Regions from separate parts of the Homo sapiens genome. Here region 1 is linked to region 2. The links come from fine-mapping of genetic effects on gene expression. A gene starts in region 2. The other region holds a variant in brackets. All regions are shown on one strand. Distances are from middle to middle.

What was found. PIP is the estimated chance that this variant, and not a neighbour inherited with it, causes the effect.
Region 1: its variant is fine-mapped to the expression of PYHIN1 in whole blood (TOPMed, PIP above 0.99). The same link has a PIP of 0.9 or more in blood mononuclear cells.

The regions. Positions count from the first base shown.
Region 1 is chr1:158,968,417-158,982,354 of GRCh38, forward strand. It overlaps PYHIN1 (pyrin and HIN domain family member 1), which reads left to right. Exons shown (of 9, transcript NM_152501.5): 8 at 5,231-5,355; 9 at 8,285-8,643. The coding sequence ends at 5,350. Among named protein-coding and RNA genes, the nearest start is that of PYDC5, 27 kb to the right of the region's middle. The variant G/A (reference allele first, on the strand shown) is at 7,468.
Region 2 is chr1:158,924,354-158,937,132 of GRCh38, forward strand. It overlaps PYHIN1 (pyrin and HIN domain family member 1), which reads left to right and starts at 7,199. Exons shown (of 9, transcript NM_152501.5): 1 at 7,199-7,423; 2 at 12,538-12,779. The coding sequence starts at 12,558.

The sequences.
Region 1 (13,938 bases), 45 kb after region 2:
TGACTGTTATTAAAAAGTCAAAAAATAACAGATACTGGTGAGCTTGCAGAGAAAAGGGAACACTTATATACTGCCAGTGGGAGTGTTAATTAGTTCAGCCATTGTGGAAAGCAGTGTGACAATTCCTCAAAGAACTTAGAACAGAACTCCCATTTGACCCAGCAATCCTAGTACTGGGCATATGCCCAAAGGAATATAAATTATTCTACCACAAAGACACATGCATGCATATGTTCATTGCACCACTATTCACAATAGCAAAGACATGGAATCACCCTAAATGTCCATTGACGTTAGACTGGATAAAGAAAGTGTGGCACATGCACACCATGGAATACTACACAGCCACAAAAAACAATAAGATCATGTCCTTTGCACCAACATGAATGGAGCTGGATGCCATTCTTATAAACAGAGCTAAACAATGAGAGAACACACGGACCCAAAGAGGAGAACAACAGACACTGGCGCCTACTTGAAGATGGAGGATGGGAAGAGGGAGAGGATGAAAAAACAATTCTTAGTGGGTATCAAGCTTAATACCTGGGTGATGAAATAATCTGTCCACCAAACCCCTGTGACATGCAGTTTACCTATGTAACAAACCTGCACATGTACCTCTGAACCTAAAATAAAAGTTAAAAAAATAATTTTTGGTCTTACAGTCAACATTCAAATCCAGCCTTAATGAACTCTAAAACTTAAGTATTTCATGGTCATATATTGCTTCCAGAGTCAGAATGTAGATGTTAAAATTTCTGAAATATTTTTCTATATATTTAAAGTCAGACATCGTTATGGTTTGAGTTTGTTTCCATAATTCAGGTTCTGCAAGGCTTCGCATGAGAAATTAGGTAACTGTGACTCACTATTTCGTTCTTTCTCTTTCACTGCCATGTTAAGGCCTATGAATCAGATGCCTATATCTTCAGTAAATGGGCAGGCAACTTGAAGCTAAGGTAAAAGGAAAACTGAGTCACTATCTTCCAATCTAGTATCTTACCCATTACCATATTGCACTCTGACCAACCTTCTTTCTGCATCACTAATACATGTGTACCAGTTGAAGACAGGACTCCTATGTAAGGAGTTCTCATTTTTACATTTTGTTTTGTTGCTGCTTTTGTTCTTTTTGACTGGTGAATTCCAATAATTCATATTTCTCTGTACACTTTCTAAAATTACTATTTGTGGATAGTGCTATCAATCTAACCTATTTGCCATCTTACTTCAGGTGGTTAGATGGAGCCCATTCCTGGTCATTATCAGCTCTGATCCATTTACTCTCTGCTACTTCAAAGACAAACATTTAAAGACAATCCATTTTCTGACGCATAATGGCTTAGACAAAATGGAGTGACAGTTTCTAAGTTCTTTTGTCTAAATATGTAATACAGCCATTTCTACATTCATAGGAATTATTCTGCTGTACATAAACTCCCTTAATACAATAATTTTAGAAAGAGGCATGTATCTCCATGGCCACCTACACCTAAATGTATCATGGACCTTTTCTGCTTTGGTGACCCACTCCAAGGTTGTCTCACCACTCAATCTATGATTCACCAGGTGAGCAGGAAAGCCTTGCCCATTTACTCATCAAGGGTTCACTCAAAAATTTGTGTATGATATAGGTTCATTATGCTTTGGGATCTAAACCCCGAAGAAGACAGAAGCATGACCATCTGTCATGACTCATCTAAAGCATAGATCACAGAATGGCATGAGTCATGATCAGGGATGCTATTAGGGAGAAATTACTATGAGGAAAATAATCAGCAATGATTTAAATTAATATTCAACCAAAGCTAAGATCTTAGGCATCCAAATTCTGCTTCTGTAATGAAAATGTTTTTGTTTATATTTTATTATGTATATTTGTTAATGATTTAGGGGGTACAAGTGCAGATTTGTTACATGGTTAAATTGCGCAGTGGTGAAGTTGGGACTTTTAGTGTATCCATCACCTGAATAGTGTATGTTGTACCCATTAGATAATCTCTCATCCCTCACCCTACTCCCACACTTCCACCTTTCTGAGTCTCCAATGTCTATTATCACATCCCCTCTACGTCCAATATCACTTCTTGGCCTTTCCACTAAGATAACTGTAATATCTGATCTTATCAGTTTTGACTTATTTTGAAGAGATACTTGTTCAATTCACTTTTATCAATGAGATTAGACTACTAGCTTTGGTAGAAGGGAATAGAGACTAGCTTATTTAATATTTTACCCATACCTCCTCAATGAGATTTTCTACAACTGGGTCAACATAAAGCATAAAATATCTGTGAATAGAGCAAACACACAAACACTGCATATACTATAACAATGAAAATAATAATGATATTTCTTCTTATTGAGCATTTACTGGATTCTGAAGTAAAGCTGTGTTTATTATAAAATGTATAGCATATATTCTTTATTGCATATCCATGAAGATACAACCTATATCTCATTTCACATATGAGAATCATGAGGTTCAGAGAAGTTAGAAATCTCTCCCAAGCTAATAAAGATAATTAGTATTAGTTGAAAGATTCATATTCAACTTAGTCAACTAAAAAGTTTTTGTAGTTGAGGGAGTATGTTTCTTCCAGTGAGAGAGAGTAGATATTAAAATATCTGTAATATATCAATAAGCATTTCAAATAGTGTTGAATTTTACATTTGTTTTTATAATCCAGACTCTTCAAGCTTCTAAAACAGGATGAGGTGCACAAGATGGCTAGGGTTTGTTGTCCTCACTTGGAAACCCTCATAAGCAAACTGATCTTTCAGCACTTTCCTTCCATCTCCTTAAGGACAAAAGAAAAATATTATGGAAATCTACAAATAGAAATGAATGAGAGTGATTTGATATTGGAAGTAGAATGTCCTTAATTATTTTCCTTAGTAAAGAGAGTGATTTGATATTGGAAGTAGAACGTCCTTAAGTGCTTTCCTTAGTGCTTAGAGAGAATCACATGTGATTTTCCAGACACCCATTATCCTTACATTAACAAGATATATATATATATATAAAGACATGTTCTGGGAATGCCCTAGTGAAATCTGAAACGGTTGTGATTGCTGTTGGGAATCCTGAAGGATTTTGGATACCTGATGCAAATCACTGGATAAACAGAATCCTGACTGGAACTGTGCTTTCAGAGAGTGCTGATAGCAAAATGAAGATCAGTATCCCCAAACAACTGACAACTGATTTTTCTGGGTCCTGAAGTGCAAACTACAGGAATCCTTTGTGTATTTGCTTGATGAAAATGGCTTTCATCCATTTGGCTAACATTGTTCTGAAACTTACTACCCTTATAACTTAGGAGCATTACTTAACAAAAATAACTCCAGCAGAGGTGCTTGACCAAGTTAGCCTAGATGAGTTTTCACCAGAAACAGAGCCAGGACCCAATCACACACCTACAGAATTTCAGTCAATAAAACGAAGGCCAAAATGCCATTTGTGAATGTGCAGGTGAAGAGGTTAGGATATCTAAAGTTATGCTGCTAGCCAGAGAAAATGCAAGAAGGAAGACAATGTAAAAAGAATAAAAGAAAAAAATAAATTAAAAAATCAAACCAGATAGATGATGATATAGATACGTATAGATATAGAGGCAGATACATAATCAGGCTTCATCTCATAGTGAAACCATTAATCAGAAAAGTCGATCTTTTCTTCAGAACACAGATGCCAGAATCACCCAAACATATGACTCCAATAAGATAGTATCCTTTCAAAGTGTATAGTCTGCATAGGTAAAATTCAGTCATCGGAGAACCTCCAACTCTGAACCATCCTCAGATGTCACAGAAAATGTCACAAACCCCATCTGGTAGTTCTTTAACCAAAGTACCAACTTCTTGTTGCCATTCTTTGTGCCTCCCTTTATTATACTTAAAGGGATAATCAGTATCTTGACAGAGCTTTTCAATCAATCTCTGACTAAATAGTTTTTTATTTTACTATATTTCTCATTCATTTATTAAGTATATAATCAGAGATGCTACTAGATTCTAGGATTTTTATGATTTACAAGGGATACATTGATAAAATCATTCCTGACCTAAAGACATTATTGTGATTTATGATCCAGATATAGAGAAAGAGTGGAGGAGAGTACACAAAGATGAAGAAATACAAGAGTGTGTTCCTCTCTTACATTTCATTGTTCATTCACAGATTTCCCTTTTGCTTCAGAACCATAACTCACAGTTTATTTTCAACATTCTTACTCTTTCCTACATGTTTTTGTTTCATACATGGTACTCCCTTTGTCTGGAATCTTTTTCTCCTATTCCTTCACTGGCCTTTATATATTTTTGGGCCAGCCTAAAACTGTCTTCAAGCAAGACCTCCTGATAACCCCATCCAAAAATAAGACAGATCATCTCTTTGTGTCCTTCACATGTCCATTTATTTCCTTTATAATACTTGTCACCACAGTAATTATAGTATATTTTCAACCCTGTAAGTAATTGAGATTATATATGCTACCTGCTCAGGTAAGTAAAAACAAAGGTCCATGAATGAGTTTATATCTGTGTGTATGAAATCCTATTCCATGCTGCCTTTTACTTACCAGTAAGTTGGACTGTGTAGTCACCTGCCTCTGTGCCACAGCACCCTCTATCAGCAGTGAACAAGAAGTCAACTTAGAGAAAGAAAAGGGGAGTATTAAGTCTTTATTCTCTCATCTAGTTTTTCACCCAGGCCCCAAGATCCACACTGACCCAGCCTACAGCCTCAGTGACTCCCCCACACCTATGAGTTGAAGACAGACTTATTCTTTACAGGAGTTTGCTATATGTGACTGGATTTTTCTTTATTATTTTGTTATTGTTACCCAAAGTTCATATTTTCCTGAAGAGTGTCTACAGATTTTATCTGGTGGATCAGTAAGCAGGCAGTCATCTTGGCAGAAGTGGCCTCAAATAGACCCCATGCCTAATCATTTCCAGCTCAGATCCATTTTCTCTTATACTATATGCTAGTTTCTGTGTATGCTGAAATGTGGGTTAAGAAAACTAAATGTATGCCAGCATCCAGAGAGATTAGCAGAGGGAAGATTCTATAAAAAGGGATTTTCACACACACACACACACACACACACACACACATATACACACATGTATTACATCCAACTTATATAGGAAAATATTAAGCAGAAAAAACCAGTTCTTTCTGTCATAAAGTGAAAGACTAAATTACCCAAATTTATGACTCCAGAAGGATGAAACCCACCCAGGAGCACAGTCATCGCCTGCAAACTTTAGAATCACCTCACCAACTGTGGCCCCTCCTCTTTCTTCTGACACTTCCACCAACCGCCATCCAGCAGTTCCTTAAATAAGGTACCACCTTTCTATTTGCATTGCTGTACCTCTAAAATATAATTGTAGGGGTAATCAGAGTCTTCAAAGGGATTCTCATTTAAATTCTGACTATATATTATTTCATTATTTTACTACATTTCTCATTCATTTATCAATATATAATTGGACATGCCACTGGATTCTAAGTCCTTCAATACTCACAAAATATGCATTCATGAAATCATTTCTGTCTTCAGGAAGATTACTGTTTTTCATTGGTGCAAATATGGTGTATGTGAGGAGGTATCCAGACAAGGAGAGATGAATACAACAGTATGTTCGTACCTTCTATTCCAGTTTCCTTTCACAATTTTCCACTACGACTAATGACCATAACTTAGGATTGATATTCAAAATCCCTGTTTCTTTCCATAGCTAGTGTCTTGGCATATGCTACTTCCTTTTTTTAGAATCCCTTACTCTCATCTCTTCATTTGCCCCAATATATTTCTGGGCCAACCAAAATCCCCCTTCCTCAGAAAAATACTGCACTGATATTCTCCTCCTGCCATAGAACACATCATGCCAAGGTGTCCTGAACATTTCTCTTTATTTTATTTAGAACATTTATTAAAATTCTAATAATAAAGTGTTTTTCAACCACACTTGATAATAAGTACAGTTTATAGATTTCTTGTCCAGAGAACATCAGACAAAGGTGAACTAATGAATTTATATCTAAGTGTTCCAATTGAATCCCAGCCTGCTTTTGGTCATGATATGACCAGTGGAGTCACCTCCACCTAGGGAACAGAAGACTATGATCTACAGTGAGAGGGAAGGTGATGAAAGAGAAAGGCAAGAGGAGAATCATGTCACCACTCTTTTAGTTGAAGACATGTCACCATACAGACTAGTTGAAGACAGATTACCTATATACAGGAGTTCTCAATTTGTGGTCGTTTTTTGGTTTGTTTATGTTTTTGTTGTTTTTGATAAGCCCGAGAATCACATTTTCCTCAATAAATTATATGTAATTTATTTGAGAGTCAAAGCTAGCACGTCCTCTTTAGCCATCTTGGCTTAGGTGACCATGGATGGAACGCATATGTAGTCATTACCAGCTCAGACCCACTTTTCTGTTACTTAATAGACATAATTGAACATCCCAGGACAACATTCTGGAAAAGAACTTATTTTTCCTGCATTTTGGCTTTGAAGGGACTACGCAAAGTTTGCCTAGGTTCTACCATTTTAAATACGCATTATGGTCTGTTTCTATAGCCGTTAGATTTATTTGACTGCATCTAAACCTCCCTTAGCCCAGGAATCTCAGCTAGGGTCCTATGTCTCCTACACCTAACCTCCCATATAGCCATTTCTTCTTTGATATCTAGCACTTCCACAGGATGCCTGGAAAATACATCCTGTTACTTCCTCTGTGATTCACTAGCTCTGAAAGAAGTCCTTGCTTTTGTATATCATAGATCATCCCAATAATACTGTGTTTGTATTAATTATTAATTTGTATAAATTTTTCTATGCTTTTGGATTTAAAGTCAAAAGCAGACCATTCTTATTTTTCATCTTTTGTCATGACTCTCCTAAATCAAAGAGCCCAGAATGGTTGGGAAAACAAATGGAGATATTACTGGCTCAGAATTACTATATGGGAAAAAACGAAGCTATTAGTTTTATTCCCAATCACTACAACTTTATCTGGGTTTTCCACAAGAGGATCAACATAAATCATAATTCATTTCTGGATCAGGCTGACATAAAAAACTTGCATAGTCTTTAAATAACAATGAAAACAATATTTTTCTAACTGAGCTTCTACTGGGTAAAGCTGGAAGTGAAAGTTATGTTTTTATGTATATGATTGCATTTACTCTTCAATACACCTCTTATGAGCACAGTAGAAAGACCATGTTCCAGGGAAAAAACGTGTTCTGCTCTAGACAAGTTAAGTTTGAGATTCCCACAGGACATCTAAGAATTATCCATCTGATATATAGAGCTTAAACTTGGGTAATTTTGGCTGGGCCTTTTACTGAATTACATCAATAGAGACATAGTTGTTAAAACAGTGGATGTGACTAAAAGTACCTAATAGAATGGAAATAATGATGTCTCTCATTTACTGAGTAT[G/A]CAGAATGACTCAGACTATTCTAAGGGTTTTTCAATAATTATCTTCATTAATCCTTTATAATCCAATTGTTTCACATATTAGCTCATTCAATTATTTGTGGTACACAATGAACAGAAGAGGGAGTTAAATTTGAGGGTGGCCAACATACCTCATAACAGTCCTAAATTACCAAGGATGTCCCTAAGCAAATCAGAACACAAAGGTAGCTGTCTTTTGTGAGAAACATCTCTGTGTAGACAGAGATGGTTGGATCTACATGACAAAGTTTATGCTGTTTGTCACATATATTCATGTGGGATTCTTGGAACAAATAAAGGCTAATATTGGAATGCAAAAAGATCAGAATAAAGGCTAACACATTCAGACACACAAAAATGCAAAGGCTTTCTGATTGCTCCAGTTCTCAGGGCCATTAGTCAAAAGTCCCAAGCCTTCCTTGACAGCAGTTGCACCAGGAATACATTTTGTACGCTCCTCCTACCTTTCTGCCCAATGAGAAGTTTCCCTTTAGCCCTTGTCGTTGGACACACCAGCTCCTTTCTCTATCTTATTGTTCCCTGACATCTCCTGCCCTTTCACGTGGGCTCATGCTGGGTAGGAGTGAATATCGCATTTCATGGTCCCAACAGAGGGGGAAGATGTGACTCCAAGGACAGGATTCATTAAAGGAGATAGATGAGAATGAGAAAAGAGTGCTTCAGATGGAAATAGAAGAAGAGATGTGGCTCACAGGGAGGAGAGGCAGTGTGATTGAAGAAAGAAATGTATGACTCCCTGCATCTCAACGGGTTTATTTTTATCTCTTTATGCTTCAAGGTCACCAAGGACAAGGATATCAAATAACTACTGTTCAATCTTTACTCAAGTGTGGAAATTTTGCCTGAAGTCCTCCACCTAAAAACCTGATGCCATTGGTAATGATGTTTATGAAGATAAGATCAAAGCACAGAAAATAATATATGTATATATATCTGGTTGAAATACTATATATATATATATATATATATATATATATATATATATATATATATACCAGCTATTAATTCTAGGAAATGGAGTATTAAGGGTGCATTTTATTTCATTAGTTTTACTTTTATGCATTTTCTTCATATCATATTTTGCATTCAGAATTTTCATAATTTGAAAAAAAATAAACTTTTTTTTCTTAAAGAGTGCTTCCATAGGAGTTTCTTTAATCTATCTGTGAGTTATGTAAAAGCAAATAAACTGTGGCCTGCAAGTCAGGGTGGGGCACACAGATTTATAGTTTGGATGGGATCTTTAAGGAATAGGCCCTGGTTAAGACTGAACTGACTGTGCCCTGCCCAAAGAATCCAGACCAAGGGGCAGGTAGGGGTGAAATCCAGCCTGTGATTCTGTTGCAAGCACTGTGTCCTGGGAAGGAGTTGCTCTAGCCAAAACTAGAGATATCTTTTCAGAATTGGACTCCTGGAGGGGGAATAATTGGGTAATTTTCTTGCCAAACCAGGCACTTTCTGGTGATGTGCATGAAGGCACTTGCCTATGTTAGAGGAATTCCTGGCCCTGTTTGATGTAAATTATCTGGTTCTATACATTTCCTTCAGCACCAACAGCTCCTCAGGAGCTCTCCCACCATATTCCCTCTTCTCACATTCCACTATATGAATCCATCAGAAAGTTGCCCAGGCAGACAGTTAACTTAGGCAAACTGAAGAATAATTAATTTATTTTAGAGTAGAATGGCAGAAAGTCAGTATCTAAAACTTACAATGTATTTATGGATCATATATTTGGCACCTGGTGTAATTATTTTGTGTCATTTAATCTTCACCGTAGCTCTAGAAGGTTGACAGTTTTCTCCTTTTTACTCTCCATATATAAAGAAAAAAGGGCACAGAAAGCAAATTTACTTTCGAAGTGACACTTAGGTGGTCTTATATAGTCCTTGATTTAACATCCAGGTCTGTTGTTCTGGCTTGGGTTAGGTGTGCTAATGTTAGGAGAACAGGGATAAGATGCAAATTAAACAATGAATAAGACGGATTCCACCTAAGATGGAGAAAGCTGAAAAGAGCCTCACTCTCACCCTTAAAATTATGAAAAAGTAGATAAATGCAAAATAGCAATCTTCTGTACTCATCAGAGAACTGTGGTGATCTGAAGCTATATATGCCCAATTAATCTAAGGAAAAGAGGCATTAAAGTTCTGCCTTTATGGTTTGGACCAACAATCCAAGGAATAAATGTAGTTTTTTTTTCCTCTTGCCCTGCACCTTTCCGATTATGTCTTTTATCAGACATAAAGGTAAGAAAGTATGATAGATTCAGATACCATGAATAAGTTTTTTCAGACATTCTTTATTGCCAAATATCATTGCTAATATTCATATGTGTGTGTGTGTCTATACATATATATATATATATATATATATATGATAATTTGGTTCACTTGGGAAAATCAAATTTTGAAGGATGTTTTGAAGCCACCGAATTTTTTCCTCATGTGCAGTGAAAAAACTGAAATTCAGAGATTGAGTGAAGTGGTCAAAATCACATCATTCAGCTAGTTAGGAAACAGATTTCATCTTGAGAAGATGTCACAAACTGCTAAAACATCCTCCAAATTCAAATTTGACTTATGGACACTGAGAAAATAACTGCTTTATATGCAAATGATATTGGTATTCTGAGCTACTCAAATACATAATATTCATATTACTTTACATAAACTAGGTATAATGGACCACTCTTGAGTATGTAGATGATGGTAATTAACAGTTAGAGAATGGGTCATTTAGGTGCTTTGTCTAATGTGTTTGCTGATTTCTCCCTGAAATTTTAACTTCTAAGGACAGTCATGTCTGTAAATGAGATAGGAAAGAAATTATCTTCCACCCGAAAGAATTAGCCTGTTCACTGTGTTTTAATTTAAACAGCGTCAACCTCTAATGCCTTGACCCCACTCTATCTTATATTTTTATATCTTACTACACATCAGAGCTCCTACTTGGGACCACAAGTAGGTGAGAATCTGGGGCTTCCCCTAACTTTGAAATGTGTGAACCAAAGAGAAAGACAGAACAGCTCACAGAGATCTAACCTACCCTCATAGACATCTTAGAGATCAGTTTGTACCAAGTGGTTCTCTGCAAGAGGCAGTGAAATAGCTCTGAGAGGATCTCTAGTGTATTAGCAAATGATTATGATTGGAAGAGGCAAATCCAACACTGTTAGCAACATTATTTCTCTAAAACCACATAGTGAGGCATGTATTAGAATTTTATGATGATAAGAGCACGTGAGATCAACCACTTAACAAATTTCAAGTTTACAATACAGTATTAGGAACTATAAGCACAGTGTTGTGCAGCAGATCTACAGAGCTTATTCATCTGGCATATCTGAAGTTGTATACCCATCGAATAGCAGCTTCCATTTCCCCCTTCCTCCAGCCCCAGCTAACCACCATTTTATTTTCTGCTCCTGTAAGTTTGGCTATTATAGATACTCTACATAAGTGGACTCATGCAGTATTTATTCTCTTATGAGTGGCTTATTACACTTAGCATAATGCCCTCAAGTTTTATTCATGCTGTAACTATTGCAGAATTTCATTCATGCTGTAACTATTGCAGAATTTCCTTCATTAAGAAAGAATAACATTCCATTATATATACACACCACATTTTCTTATCTATTCATTCAAAACTGGGACATTTAGGTAGTTTTCACATCTTGTCTATTTTGAATAATACTGTAATGTACATGGGAGCGCTAGTAATATCTCTTCAACTCCTATTTTAATTATTTTGCATAAATACCAAGAAGAATAAATCTTGGGTCATATGGTATTCATATTTTTTTCTTCCAACTTTTATTTTAGATTTAGGGGCTACATGTGCAGGTTTGTTACATCAATACATTACATGTTGCTGGGATTGGCATACAAATGATTTTGTCACCTAGGTAGTAAGCACAGTACCTGATAGGTAGTTTTTCAGTCTTCACCCTCCTCCCACCCTCGACCTTTAAGTAAACCACCAGTGTCTATTGTGCTTCTTTTTGTGTCCTTGTGTACTCAATGTTTAGCTCCTACTTATTAGTAAGAACAAGTGGTATTTGGTTTTCTGTTCCTGTGTTATTTTGCTTCAGATAATGCCTTGCAGCTGCATCTATGTTCCTGCAAAGGACATGATTTGTTGCAGGAAGTCAGGGACCCCAAATGGAGGGACTGGCTGGAGCCACAGCAGAGGAACATAAATTGTGAAGATTTTGTGGACATTTATCAGTTCCCAAATAATACTTTTATAATTTCTTATGCTTGTCCTTACTTAAATCTTTTAATCCTGTTATCTTCATAAGCTGAGGATGTATCTTATCTCAGGACCACTGTGATAATTGTTAACTGTACAGATTGATTGTAAAACATGTGAGTTTGAAAAATATGAAATCAGTGCATCTTGAAAAAGAACAGAATAGTAGCGATTTTTAGGGAAGACAACCGTAAGCTCTGACTGCCTGCGGGTTTGGGCAAAACGAGCCGTATTTTTCTTCTTGCAGACAGCCTATAAATGGATGTGCAAGTAGGAAAGATATTGCTAAATTCTTTTCCTAGCAAGGAATGTTAATATTAATACCCTGGGAATGGAATGCGTTCCTGGGGAGAGATCTATAAATGGCTGCTCTGGGAATGTCTGACTTGTGCAGTTGAGATAAGGACTGAGATACACCCTGGTCTCCTGCAGAACCCTCAGGCTTACTAGGGTTGGGGAAACTCTGCCCTGGTAAATTTGTGGTCAGACCGGTTCTCTGCTCTCGAACCCTGTGTTCTGTTGTTTAAGATGTTTATCAAGACAATACATGCACCGCTGAACATAGACGCTTATCAGTGGTTCTGCTTTTACCCTTTGTCCCGTTCCCTCAGAAGTATGTGATCTTTGTTAGACCTTTACTAGTGGTTCTGCTTTTTGCCCTTTAAAGCATGTTATCTTTGTACCTACTCCCTGTTCTTACACCCCCTCCCTTTTGAAACCCTTAACAAAAACTTGCTGGTCTGAGACTCAGGCGGGCATCATGGTCCTACCGATACATGAAGTCACCCCTCGTGGCCCAGCTGTAAAATTCCTCTTTGTACTGTCTTTATTTCTCAGCTGGCTGACACTTGTGGAAAATAGAAAGAACCTACATTGAAATATTGGAGTCAGGTTCCCCCAGTAATGATTTTGTATTTTTATGGCTCCGTAGTGTACCATGTTGTATACGTACCACATTTGCTTTATCTAAACCACTGTTAATGGCCATCTAGATTGATTCCATGTCATTACTATTATGAAAAGTGCAATAAGCATACACATGTACTTTGGGAGGCTGAGGTGGGTGGATCATCTGAGGTCAGGAGTTCGAGACCAGCCTGGCCAACATGGTGAAACCCTGTCTCTACTAAAAATACAAAAACTTAGCCTTTTGTGGTGGCAGGCACCTGTAGTCTCAGCTACTTGGGAGCCTGGGGCAGGAGAATCGCTTGAACCTGGGAGGCAGTGGTTGCAGTAAGCCAAGATTGTGCCATTGCACTCCAGCCTGGGGGACAAGAGCGAGACTCTGAATCAAAAGATAAAGAAATAAATAAACAAACAAACAAAGAAACCATATACAAGCACGTATCTTTTAGTAGAACAATTTATATTCCTTTGGGTATATACCAGTAATGGGATTGCTGGGTCAAATGTTAGTTCTGTTTTAAGTTATTTGAGAAATCTCCAAACTGTTTTCAACAGTCGCTGAAGTATTCAGCAAATAGCATCAGGATCACTGGCTAGCTGTATGAAGAAAATTAAAACTGGACCTCTTCCTTTCACCATATAAAAAAATATGGCATATAATTGGCATTTCCACCCTCAATGTATAAATGTTCCCTTTTCTCTACAACCTCACCAGCATCAGTTATTTTTTGACTTTTTAATAGCAGCTATTCTGACTGGTGTGAGCTGGTATCTCCCTGTAGTTTTGATTTGCATTTCTCTAATGATTAGTGATATTGAGCATTTTTCACATGCTTGTTAGTTGCATGGATCCTCTTTTGAGAAAGATCTATTCATGGCTTTTAACCATTTTTAATGAAACTGTTTGGTTTTTGCTTGTTGATTTAAGTTCCTTATAGAGTCTAGATATTAGACCTTTCTCAGAAATCATAGTTTGCAAATACTTTCTCCCATTCTGTAGACTATCTTTTTATTCTGTTGATAGTCTAATTTGCTGTACAGAAGATCTTTAATTAGATCTCACTTGTCAATTTTTGTTGTTGTTGCTACATTTGCTTTTGGAGTCTTTGTCATGAAGTCTTTGCCAAGGCTAATGTCCAGAATAGTATTTCCTAGATTTCTTCTAGGGCATTTACAGTTTTAGGTTTTACATATATAAGTTTTTTTTAACTTTATATTGAGTAGATTTTTTATATGGTGAAAGGAAGGGTTCCAGTTTTAATTTTCTGT
Region 2 (12,779 bases):
TCTCACTCACTCTCTCTCTCCCTCAACGCCCACCAAGTAATGACTCAGTATGAATATGGCTGTCTGCAAGCCAGAAAGAGGGCCCACACCAGAAACTAAGTTGGCTGGCACCTTTATCTTGGAACCCCAGCCTCCAGAACTGGGGGAAATGCCTGTCATTTAAACTACCCAGTCTATGTTATTTTGCTATAGTATTCTGAGACTCAAGTCGACTAAGACAATAGTCTTCTCTAAAATGGGGAAACTCTGCCTCATAGGGTTGATTTGAAAATCTAGTGACATAAAGCACATACATTATATTTTACAGTCTTCTAGTGCATCATGAGAAATCAATATGCGGTAGGAATCATTGTTCTTAGCAAGATAAAGACATTTAAATTATTGATACTATTGAGTATCAGTAGTATCAATAGCATTGAGAACTATTTCACACTATTGAGTATTTAGGACATCAAGGTCTTCAGGATGTGATTGGTCTCCTTTAAAGAAAAGGCACCAGATCTCTCTCTCTCAAAAGTGTGAAATAACTTTTCACGCTTCTCAAGATACTCAAAAGTGTGAAATAACACAAATAGTTCCACACAACTGAAACTTTGGTATATGCAGAAGGGTATGGAAAATGAGGTCAGAATGGTAAAACAGTAAGCTACCTTTTTTCATAAAGGGAGGAATGGAAGTTTCACTGTGAAAAAAACAGGTACATAATTGGGAGATTTTATGCAATAAGAGGATGAATTGAAGGCAGCACACTCATTCCTCAGCTAGAAATTAGAAAAAACAGATGATGATGATGATGATGATGATGATCTTTATTATTATTATTATTTTGAGATGGAGTCTTGCTCTGTTGCCCAGGCTGCAATGCAGTGGTGCAACCTCAGCTCACTGCAACCTCCACCTCCCAGGTTCAAGTGATTTTCCTGCCTCAGCCTCCTGAGTAGCTGGGACTACAGGTGCCTGTCACCACACCTGGCTAATTTTTGTATTTTTACTAGAGATGGGGTTTCACCATGTTGGCCAGGCTGATATCGAACTCCTGACCTCGTGATCCACCCGCCTCAGCCTCCCAAACTAGAAAAAAACAGATTATTAAGTATTAAGGAATTTTTCTGCTGGTTGTCAAATATTTTGCATTATAAAGGCAGCAGAGGAGGTGATATTTATACCACAGGAATCGGCAATTGCTACAAATCAGAGCTCTTCTATAGTTGTTATAGTTAGATTAATATCTACGGTTTTGCAACTACGTTCTATTTGTTACATTTGTTCTTTGTTTCTTTGCCCCTCTTTTCCTGCCTTTTATGGTTTTAACTGAGCAATGATTTTTTTCTTTTCTTCTCAACATATGAATTATACTTTTTAAAAAGTTTTTTATTGTTTGGCTTAGAGTTTCAAAAATATAGCTTTAACTAACTTAAATCTATCTTTAAATATTACTATATTGCTTTATGTATACAACACATACCATATAACAGAAAATCCCCATTCCTCCATTTTTTCCCTGGCTCATTTCTTGTATTTATATACTATAATGACTGAATACATCATTACTATTATTACTTTAAAGAAAGTTATCTTTTAAATCAATTCAGAATCAAAATTTTTAAAATTTAATTGACTTGCATTTATGCCTTCTCTGATGGTTTTCTTTTCTTCATGTAGATCTGATCTCCTTCACTTTTGAATAATAATTTTGCCAGATATAGAATTCTAGATTGCCATGTTTTTTCTTTCAATACATTTAAGCATTTCATTTTATATTCTTCTTTCTCTTATTGCCTCCAATGTTTCTGACAAAAACTCCACAGTGATTCTTGGAATTGTTTCTCTATATATAATACAATATTTTACTTTCCTGACTTTGATCAAGATTTTTCTTTGACTTTTCTGCAGTTGAAATATAAAATGTCCAGATATGATTTGTTTTTCAGCATTTGTCACAGTGGATAATATCTGAGCTTCCTGCATCTGAGGTTTTGGCTCCGGTTGGTTTTAAATATTTCTTGGCAATTATTTCTCCAAATACTGATACAGGAGATAGAAAGAAATTATCTTAGGCAGATAGTGAGGGCAAAAGAGTCCTTGGCAGAACTTCCCTTCTAACAAAAAGAAGCCCAAAAATCACTTATTTTCTAATAAAGAGCAGCCTGAAAGATCGAACTGCAAACATAGAGAAGGAAGCTGGGAGCCTGCATGGGGGGATGCTGGCAGCTGCACCAATAGAAAAGGCTACCTGGTACCAGGCGTGTTCACCATGGGGTTCCACCTTTCCTTTTTTGTTAGCATGTGTACAGTAAGAAAGAAATAAGCAACATGGAGTAGCTACCCACCTGCATAATAAAAGATGGGGGTAGGGGCAGCCAGAGATTTGGGCCCTATGCAGATGGCACAGCTGGTCCTAACCAGTTTTTCACACCCTGCATAGATCAGACACCGTCTCCCCACTAGCTCATCTATAAAAATCTCTGCATTTCACAGCAGATCAGCAACCATTTTTCCAGGAATCCTCTCTGTAGCAGAGAGCTATTCTCCTTCTTTTGTCTATTAAAATTCAGCTCTAAACCTCACACTTTGTGTGTGTCTGCATCCTTGATCTCTGTGGCCATGTGACCAAGAACCTCAGGTGTCACACCAGACAAAGAGACCATTTCAGTACTTTTTATGCTTCCTTCTTTCTTTCTTTCTGGCTTTTCGATTATGTATTTGCTACATCTTAAGATATCCCACCACAGTTATTAGATATTCTGTGGGCTGGAGGGTTTAATATTTTTTTCCTTTGCATTTAGTTTTGGAAATTTCTATTGATCTATCTTCAAGGTAACATTCTTTTCTAGATTATGTCTGGTCTATTGATTATTTTCAATTTCTGTTACCATTGTTTCACTTCATACATTTTTGTTTGATTTATCTCTTAGTGTTTTCTTCTCTCTGCTTATGTTACCCATCTGTTCTTGTATGCAGTCTACTTTTTCCATTAGAGCACTTAACACATTAATCATAGTAATTTTAGATTCCCTGTCAGCAAATTTCCACATGAGGATCATATCTGAGTCTGCTTCTAATGGTTCTTTTGACTCTTGAGACTCTGTTTTTCCTTGTCTTTAGCATAACTTGCTTTTTCTTTCTTTCTTTTTTTTTTTTGTCAAAAGGAAGACATATATGATCAGGTAATAGGAACTGAAATAAACAGACCTTTAGTATGAGATTTTTTGTTAGTCTGGCTAGTTGTTAAAACGTTATTTACTTTTTGTCCTAAATGTCGGTGCCAAAGGCTTCAGAATCCTTTACTGTCCTTTTTGTCTCTCCTCTTGCCTTTGAACTTCCCTGAGCATCCTCCTCAGAGAGTCTACCAAGAGTAATCAAGAAAAATAAGGGAGGATAATATAAATGGCCAGTATCAGGAATGTAAAGGGATGGCACTACAGATATTAAAATGGTAATAAAAAATTATGAAAAATATTATGCAAATAAGTTTACTTACGTAATTCCTGTAAAACAAAAATGTATTACAAAAAAAATCCTGTGAAACACAACTTACCAAAACTGTCTTGTAAGGAAATAAAACAACTAAATATTTTTATATCTATTAGAGAAAGAGAAGTTGTAACAAAAATCTTTCCGTAGTGAAAGTTTTGGGAATAGACACTTTATGAATTCCATCAGACATTTGAGGATAAAAGTTTACCATGTCTATACAATCTGTTTTAGAAATGCCAGTTTGCTGTCACACCAAAATTAAAGATATTACACAGAAACTAAACAAAAACCAACTCTCACATGAAAATAAATGCAAAAACACTTTTAAAATATTGAAAAATTATACTTACCAATATACTTATCAATATGACAGAAACTAAACAAAAACCAACTCTCACATGAAAATAAATGCAAAAACACTTTTAAAATATTGAAAAATTATACTTACCAATATACTTATCAATATGACAGAAACTAAACAAAAACCAACTCTCACATGAAAATAAATGCAAAAACACTTTTAAAATATTGAAAAATTATACTTACCAATATACTTATCAATATGATAAATTATAATGCATCATTAAAAGTGTTTTATCTCAGGGATATAAGATTGGTTCAACATTTAAAACTCAATCACCTTTCCCTCTTCCTTGAGAAAGAGAAATCTATTTACTTGAGAGACAAAAGGAGAAGGCACCTGATTGAGGTGGCTGATGGCCATGAATGCATAAAGCAATCTTGCTAACTGAGGCTCTCAACAAATGGGTTTTGTTCTGACTCTTAGGGATAATTAGAGAAAGGTTTTAACACTCTCCATTTCCATTTTCCTCTCTGAGATCACAATAATTATTACAAGGCTTTATCCAGGGGTTTACAATGGACTTTAAAAGTCCCAAACGTGGTTTCTTGGTGTGATTGTGTAAGAGAAAAGCTTCAGCTGACTTAAATTTAAAAGAGTTTAACTGAGCAGTGAATGTTATTCAGGCAGCCTCCCAAGCCAGAGTAGGCTCAGAGACTCCAGCACAGCCACATAGTGGAAGATTTATGAAGAGAAAAAGAAAAGTGAGATACAGAAAATGGACATGAGATAAAGAGCTGGATTGGTTATAGCTCGGAGTTTGCCTTATTTGAACGCGGTTTGAACAAGTTGGCCACATTTGATTGGCCAAAACTTGGTGATTGACACAAGCATATACTACAGTCTGTTTACACTTCCATTTAGGCCATCATTCACGCTGTATGAGAAACCTTTAGGCTGAACTTAGAATATGTAAGAAGGCAGCTTTAGGCTAAACTTGATTTAACATTGCTTTTGATTTAACAAAGCAAAAATAAAAATAAGTAATTATTTTTGCTTTTCTCCTTAGAGGCTTTCTGCCGTCTCCTAGACTGACGACTGGGTACAGATTGACAAACGTTTTCTATAATAAGCCATACAGCAAAATCTTTACACTCTGCAGCCGGATGGACTCTGTTGCTAGTCAACTCTTCATTGCACCATGAAGTAGATATTGACAATGCATAAGTGAGTAATCACAGTTGTGTTTCAATAAAATTTTACTTACAAAAGTGGATGGTGTGTTAGTATTGTCCCACAGGCAGTAATTTACTAACATCTTGGTTAGAACATTAATCGGGTGGGAACTTTTCCTGAGGACTTTGAATGAGCATCGGAATTAGTACTTCAGATGATAAAAAGTCATGAAGGTCCATCCAAGACTTTTACCCCCTTATCAGGAGCTCTCGTATGTTCTATTAGTGAGCTTTCTGTGTGATGGCACAAATTGCAAATTATTGCCCACTGCTTCAGAATCAGCACAAATGCACATTTTTAAAGCATTTCTTTGCTTCATCTATTACAATTTTATCTGCACAGTATGGATTATGGAGCAATGTTCTGAATTGTCTTCATTGGTGACAGTAATTTGTATGTTGTATGCTGGAGTCCTAACCAAAGGCATTACTCTACATGAAATGATTACCAAAAAGGGGAAACAAAAATGTCCTGAAACATGGTAATTTCTACCAAGTTTCCTCTACTCTCTGACCTTTGAATTGGGGTAACCTGACCTTCCTAATATCCCTCTCTACCTACTATCTTAAGACCAACTTAGTGTCTCTACATTAACAGCAACGTAAACCTATAAAAGAAAACCATGAACACTCGAAGGTATTTTTGTGGCCATCCTTCCAGATCCTCCTTGCTTTTTCTTAACTTACTTTTGCTTTGATAAAATTATCATATGGCTCCAAATCCAGACATCAACTATCCTCTCCATGACCCTAGTTTGTACTAAGGCGATCAGCTTTCTTCTGTTCTGTAGATGGCCTCAGATCATTTGTATTATTTGTGAAGGAAACCAAAAATACTTCTCAAAATACTTAGGACTGTTAAGTTAAAGACAGAAAATGGAGGGGAACATGCTGCCTCAGGCACTATTTGCCTGATGGCAGGACATAAATCCGTATTTACTGGAGAAAGCACTTGCTTTTCAGCCCGGAGAAGGCGCCACCAGGAACCTGAGGAATCTGGGAACAGATTTTACTACCTTCCCACGTTTTCCCACCTTTTAAATGACTGGAACTGCTTTCTCCTTTGCTTTTCACTATATAGAACGTATGGCTCTTTATTGAAATACTATTTAAACAAGGTTTCTAAGCCACAGCCTGGAGAGAGAAATACTTTTGAACTGAGGCCTATCCCTTGTGATGAGTAGAGCACACATTAATAAACTGCTTGTTTTTCTTTTGTTAATTTGACGTTTGTTTTCAGGAGAGTGTCAACTAATAACCTAAAAAGGGAAATTTAAAAAAAACTTGTTTTCTCCCCTACAGCTGTATTTCGGGCCCCATTTTCCACTCATGGCCACATCCTGCTTGCAGATCTGCTGCTGGGTTAACACAACATCATCTGCCAGTTGGTGTCGTTTATTTGACATCTTGGGGTTTTAGTACTCTGAAGGACACCCACTGCCCTTAACAGAAAAAATACTGCTGAGCAAAGGGTTTAACAGGACTCTCGGTCTACCAGAAGTTCAGTGCATTTTCCAGGATTTTCAAGGCTTCGATGCTGTCATGTTGTGAGCCCACTATCCACTTGTGTTTTTCCATGAATAATGAAGGAAACCTGAGGAATCATGAATGTAATCATTGAGGTAAAATAACCTAGTCATAGTCAAGAGGACAGCTAGTGTTAAACTCCTTTATATATATTTGAGAAAGGATTTATATATTCATAATAACTTTCTGATCTGGAAAGCCCTAGGTTTGTCAACTATTAATAACTGGGTGAATGCTTCAGGTAGTATTTAAACCAACTGCTATTTCATAGCAGACATTCTCCCATGCAGGAGATGCAGTAAAGTACTGGTAGCAATAGATGCTCCTACCAAGATCTCCCCCTGCAACCGCACAGGAAAGGAGGGAGAAGAAACCACCTTGCTTCTCTCATATTTGACAATCATTCATCGGAATAGAGGTCCCTAATGTCCCACATGTAAGTCTGCTGGTTAAGAAAGTTCTAAGATTGGAACTCCATTCAGATATCAACATTTGTAAGAAAAAAAATTTTAAATATAACTTTGATACAAATTTTACTTTGATTAAGATACCTACAGGAAAGAAACTGTTCATTTTCTCTAACAGGATGGAAAGCAAAAAATATGGGTGGGAGGAGTCTGCACGTTGTTTCACAACTTCTCTCTCCCCAGGGCAAAGCAGAGTATGAGGAAGCCAGCACTAGTCAAGTGACTCTAAGAAGGGCCATTTTCCCTTGTTGTCTTTGAAAATACTTCATTTTCTTAGCATTTCAGGAGATTATAACATCCTGTATTTCAGTTTCTGAGAGCTTTACTGACTGATTTCCCTATTCAAAACAATCCTCATTTCCTACATTTCTGAAGATCTCAAGATCTGGACTACTGTTGAAGAAATTCCCAGTAAGGTGAGTACTGTGGGTATTTTTTATAGAAAAGATCTAGATGCTTCCTTGAAAGCCACAAAATCACAAGGGAAAAATCGATATTGGTTCTTCAGGGCAGTGGGGTGAGGGCAGTAGGGCTGGTATCAACTATATTCAGAAAAGTGAAAACTGCAGTTAATACTTCCAATTCTTTACTTACTTCAAAGATAGTAGATATCCTTTATTCTACAACTGGGGCATGAATGAAGGAATATGCATTTTGACCATTGCAGATTTTAAAACAAATTCTCTGAGTATATATTCTCTGAGGTTAGAAAGCTTGGTGGCCATTGGGGTCTGGGCAAAAGACAAGATAATGATTTCATTCTTTTTTATGGATGCATAGTATTCCACGCTGTATATGCATAACATGGATACGGCTAGAGAACATTACCCTAAGTGAACTAACACAGGAATACCAAATACTGCATGTTCTCACTTATAAGTGGAAGTTAAACATTGAATCCATATGGGCACAAGATGGGAACGGTAGACGCTGGGGACTGCTTGAGAGGAAAGGTGGGAGCAGTATGTGGGTTGGAAGGCTATCTATCTGGTACTATGTCGCTACCTTGGTGATGGGATCACCAGACAACAAGCCTCAGCGACACACAGTTTACTCATTTAACAAGCCTGCACATGTACCCTCTGAACCTAAAATGAAAGTAGAAGATAAAATAAGACAAGATAATGATGTGCACAAAGTATCAGGAAATAATATTAAGTAAAAAACACATCTAGACATACAGCTGTATTTTACGGTATCTCAATTTTACAAAACATGTTCTCACACAAAAACATATGTGAGAACATTTTGTAAATAATATTATTCTACAAGTGCAAACACATAGTAGAAAATGTATCCATTTTGCAAACACAATTATTCAAATAATTCAAATAATTCAAATGTGTCAATATTTTCATAAGTATGTTTAACTTTTACATTAGCATCATTCTATACCAGATGTGAAAGGCAGTTTTTTATTCATTTTAAGATTACTTCCTGCCCTCCTGAAAGTTAATGATGTTTTATTTTTCTAGTGGCAATGTATAGGGGAGAGGCATGGAAGTCAATTTGAAATAGATTTATATTGTCAAAGTTCAGAATTTTTAGAAGACTTTCTGTATAGCCTGGTGCAATATCTCAGTGTACTTGACTAGAATATGAGATTTTAAATGTTGATTTCAGGATTTATATATGTTAGATAAATATTGCTATCAATTATGTTGCTCAAATTTGTAAAAATGTTTTTTTACCTTGTTCATTTAGTATTGGAAGATATAATATAGAACCTCCTATTATAAGACGGTATTTTCTTGTACTCCTCTCAAATTCATATATATAATATATAGATATGCTCACATGCATAGTTGTATAATGTATATTATGTGTGTATGTGATCATGCATACATGTTTCCAAACATAAACATACACATATAAATATATATATTTGTGGCACCGTGTACATATGTGTGTATATGAAGATAAATATATTATATAACATTATATTATCATGAAGGACTATACAATAATGAAAAATAATATACATTTATTATTATTAGATAAATCTATAATTTAAATTATTGTATCTTCCCAGGAATTCAACCTTTTACCATGTGGTATCTGATAATACTCTTTGTCTTAAGATCTTTTAAAAATGATTCTAGCATAGATAAGCTGGCTTTCTTCTAGTTTCTCCTTGCATGATAATTTAAATTTTTTTTCATCTTTCAGTGATCTTTTACTGACAACATACATATAGAAATTTTAAATCAAATTTGATAAAAGTTGTCATTTAACTAGTTAACCTCTTTATGTATAGGCTAATAATTAACATATTTTGGCCTGCTTCTGCTATCTTCACTTCAATTTATAACACTTCTATATTCTCCTACTTGTCTGTTTTTAAAACTTATATTTCCATCTCACCCTTTAAGACAATTACATTAGTAAACTCATATTCTTTTTCTTCCCTCCCTCCACCATGTTGGTATACTTTCTGTTTCTCTTTTCTTTGATCAGGGCTTTCTTTTTAAGTCATAGGCACACATAATCAAGTTCGTTTTTCATTCTTACTTGTCTTTTGGCCTGCAGCTTTTTAAAATTTTTTTTTAATTTTCTATTGAAAAGTACTTCCAAAAATGTTTCTGTGTGCATCTTTGTCTGGAAAAACTACTGAGGCCTTCAGGTTCAGAGAATAGTTTTTGAGGATCTTATGTTTAAATATCACTTTGTTTAGATTGAAATTCTAGTTTTAAAATTATTTTTTCCTTCAAGACAAGATGAGAGCATTTCTTTTGTACCTGGGGGGCTCGGTATGTTTTGAAAATCAGAACTTGGAGGTTTATAAAGATTACTTAATGCACATTTTTCTAGAAACCCCAGTGTTATCAGTGTCATTACTACAAAAGCAAAAGCACTAATATTTCAGCATCAAAACATATGAATATTTGTGTTTAAGTGGAATAAATAAAAATCATACATAGCCTTCTGTAAGCTCACATCTGGTTTCATTTTGCAAATAAATCGTGTTGTCATACTCACAAAACAAATCAAAACTTCCCATTTCTAAACTTTTTGTTTAGCAATTTATATGGGACTTTGGGCCAGCATTATATAAAAATGATTCCATTCTCCTCTTTCAAGTAGATTTGTTGTTGAGAATCAGTTTCAATCTAATTTTTGGATCTTTGCAGGTGATCTAAAGCCTTCATTCTCGGAGGCTTATGGAGTATTTATTTGTTTTTTATGTTCTTCAGTTTCACTATATGTCTTTGTATATATTTTTTCCTTCATTCTATGCTTATCAATCTGAGGACACTCATGTTCTCTCAAGAAGAAAGCAATTAACAGCCCCAGGAATTTAAATATCTAAATTACACAAGAGGTACACAAATACATGTTTTCTATAATTAAAATATTTGTTTTTGTATTTATTTTTATCGAGGTGGAGTTTTGCTCTTGTCACTCAGGCTGGAGTGCAGTGGCATGATATCTGCTCACTGCAGACTGCACCTCCCGGGTTCAAGCAATTCTGTTGCCTCAGCCTCCTGAGTAGCTTGGATTATGGATTACAGGCACCCACCACCATGCCTGGCTAACTTTTGTATTTTTAGTAGAGACGGGGTTTCACCATGTTGGCCAGGCTGGTCTTGAACCCTTGACCTCACATGAACTGCCTCCCTCAGCCTCCCAAAGCGCTATGTTAATTTAAAAAGGAAACAGGAATCCATAGCATGCTTTGAGTGTCATCATGTGCTAAAGTGCACTGGTGCTAAAGAGGTCCAGAGGAGTAACACTCTGTCCATAAGGGCACTCTGAAAATTTCTAGAAGACAAACTCTCAGTTGAGTCTAAAATGTTGTAGGAGAGGCAGTCAGATAGAGGAATGTGGGAATGGCTTTCCAGGCAATGAGAAGAGAATTAGCAAAGTCATGAAGCATGAAAATGTTTTATACTTCTGAAATGTAAGATATAAGGAACACACAAGTGCCAGAGGTTAAAAAAAAAAAAAAAAAGAATGCAGATTATTCAAAGTCTTCTGAAACAATACAAGAAGCAAGGAATGTATTGAAAAGAAAATGGGCAAATATTGAAAGATTTCAGTGGGATAAAAATGTGGTTTATAGAGAGAAATGTGGATCTGTGAAATGAAAATGAATTAGACAAATCAAGCCTAAAAGAAAAATCAAGCAACTATTGAAATATTCCAGCCAATAAATCCTGTGTTCCTGCAATAGAGAAAATGTAGATGTTCAGGAAAGTGATAGTTTTATGGGCACAGAGGACAAATATGGCAGGGTCCAACACCAAGGAAGAGGATACTGATGAGAGCTGACAAGAGAAGAGTTAAGGAGAATAGGGTCGGCGCCCCAGCATGAAACTGTAGTGCTGCGGCAGAAAGTTATTCATATAAGGTGGGAGGCTGCAGCCCATTTACACCTAGGCCACTCCAGTCATAGTGGTGGGTGTGGGAAGATTTAAGAAACAACAGGCAGGTTTTGGGGGATAGGCTCCAGCCCCAGTAAAGGATGGGAAGAGCAACCAAGCACTTTGACACTCCACAGCCCATACTCTAAACACTGAGACAATTGCTTGTTCACAGACCTCCCTCTAACACCTGGACCCAATTCAACTATCCTCATTCAATGGGATGAATTACTTGGACATTCCTAAAGCAAAAGTTCTTCACTCAATTTCTACAGTAACTCATTTGGTCATTAAGTCCTTCTTTATCACACATATTCATGGACAACTCTTTCTTTTATTATTATTATTATTATACTTTAAGTTTTAGGGTACATGTGCATAACGTGCAGGTTTGTTACATATGTATACATGTGCCATGTTGGTGTGCTGCACCCATTAACTCATCATTTAGCATTAGGTATATCACCTAATGCTATCCCTCCCCCCTCCCCCCACCCCACAACAGTCCCCAGTGTGCGATGTTCCCCGTCCTGTGTCCATGTGTTCTCATTGTTCAATTCCCACCTATGAGTAAGAACATGCGGTGTTTGGTTTTTTGTCCTTGCGATAGTTTGCTGAGAATGATGGTTTCCAGCTTCATCATCCTGATACCAAAGCTTGGCAGAGACACAACAAAAAAAAGAGAATTTTAGACCAATATCCTTGATGAACATTGATGCTCAATAGAATACTGGCAAACCAAATCCAGCAACACATCAAAAAGCTTATCCACCATGATCAAGTGGGCTTCATCCCTGGGATGCAAGGCTGGTTCAACATACAAAAATCAATAAACGTAATCCAGCATATAAACAGAACCAAAGACAAAAACCAAATTATTATCTCAATAGATGCAGAAAAGGCCTTTGACAAAATTCAACAACCCTTCATGCTAAAAACTCTCAATAAATTAGGTATTGATGGGACGTATCTCAAAATAATAAGAGCTATCTATGACAAACCCACAGCCAATATCATACTGAATGGAGAAAAACTGGAAGAATTCCCTTTGAAAACTGGCACAATGAACAACTCTTTCTTATGGGCCACTTATTCACATAGGCATACATCTTCTTTTAAATTCTCTGTATACATGTGTAACACTATATACCATTTTTCTCTTGCAGGCTCACTTATATCTTTAGAGATGGCAAATAACTACAAGAAAATTGTTCTACTGAAAGGATTAGAGGTCATCAATGATTATCATTTTAGAATTGTTAAGTCCTTACTGAGTAACGATTTAAAACTTAATCCAAAAATGAAAGAAGAGTATGACAAAATTCAGATTGCTGACTTGATGGAGGAAAAGTTCCCAGGTGATGCCGGTTTGGGCAAACTAATAGAATTCTTCAAAGAAATACCAACA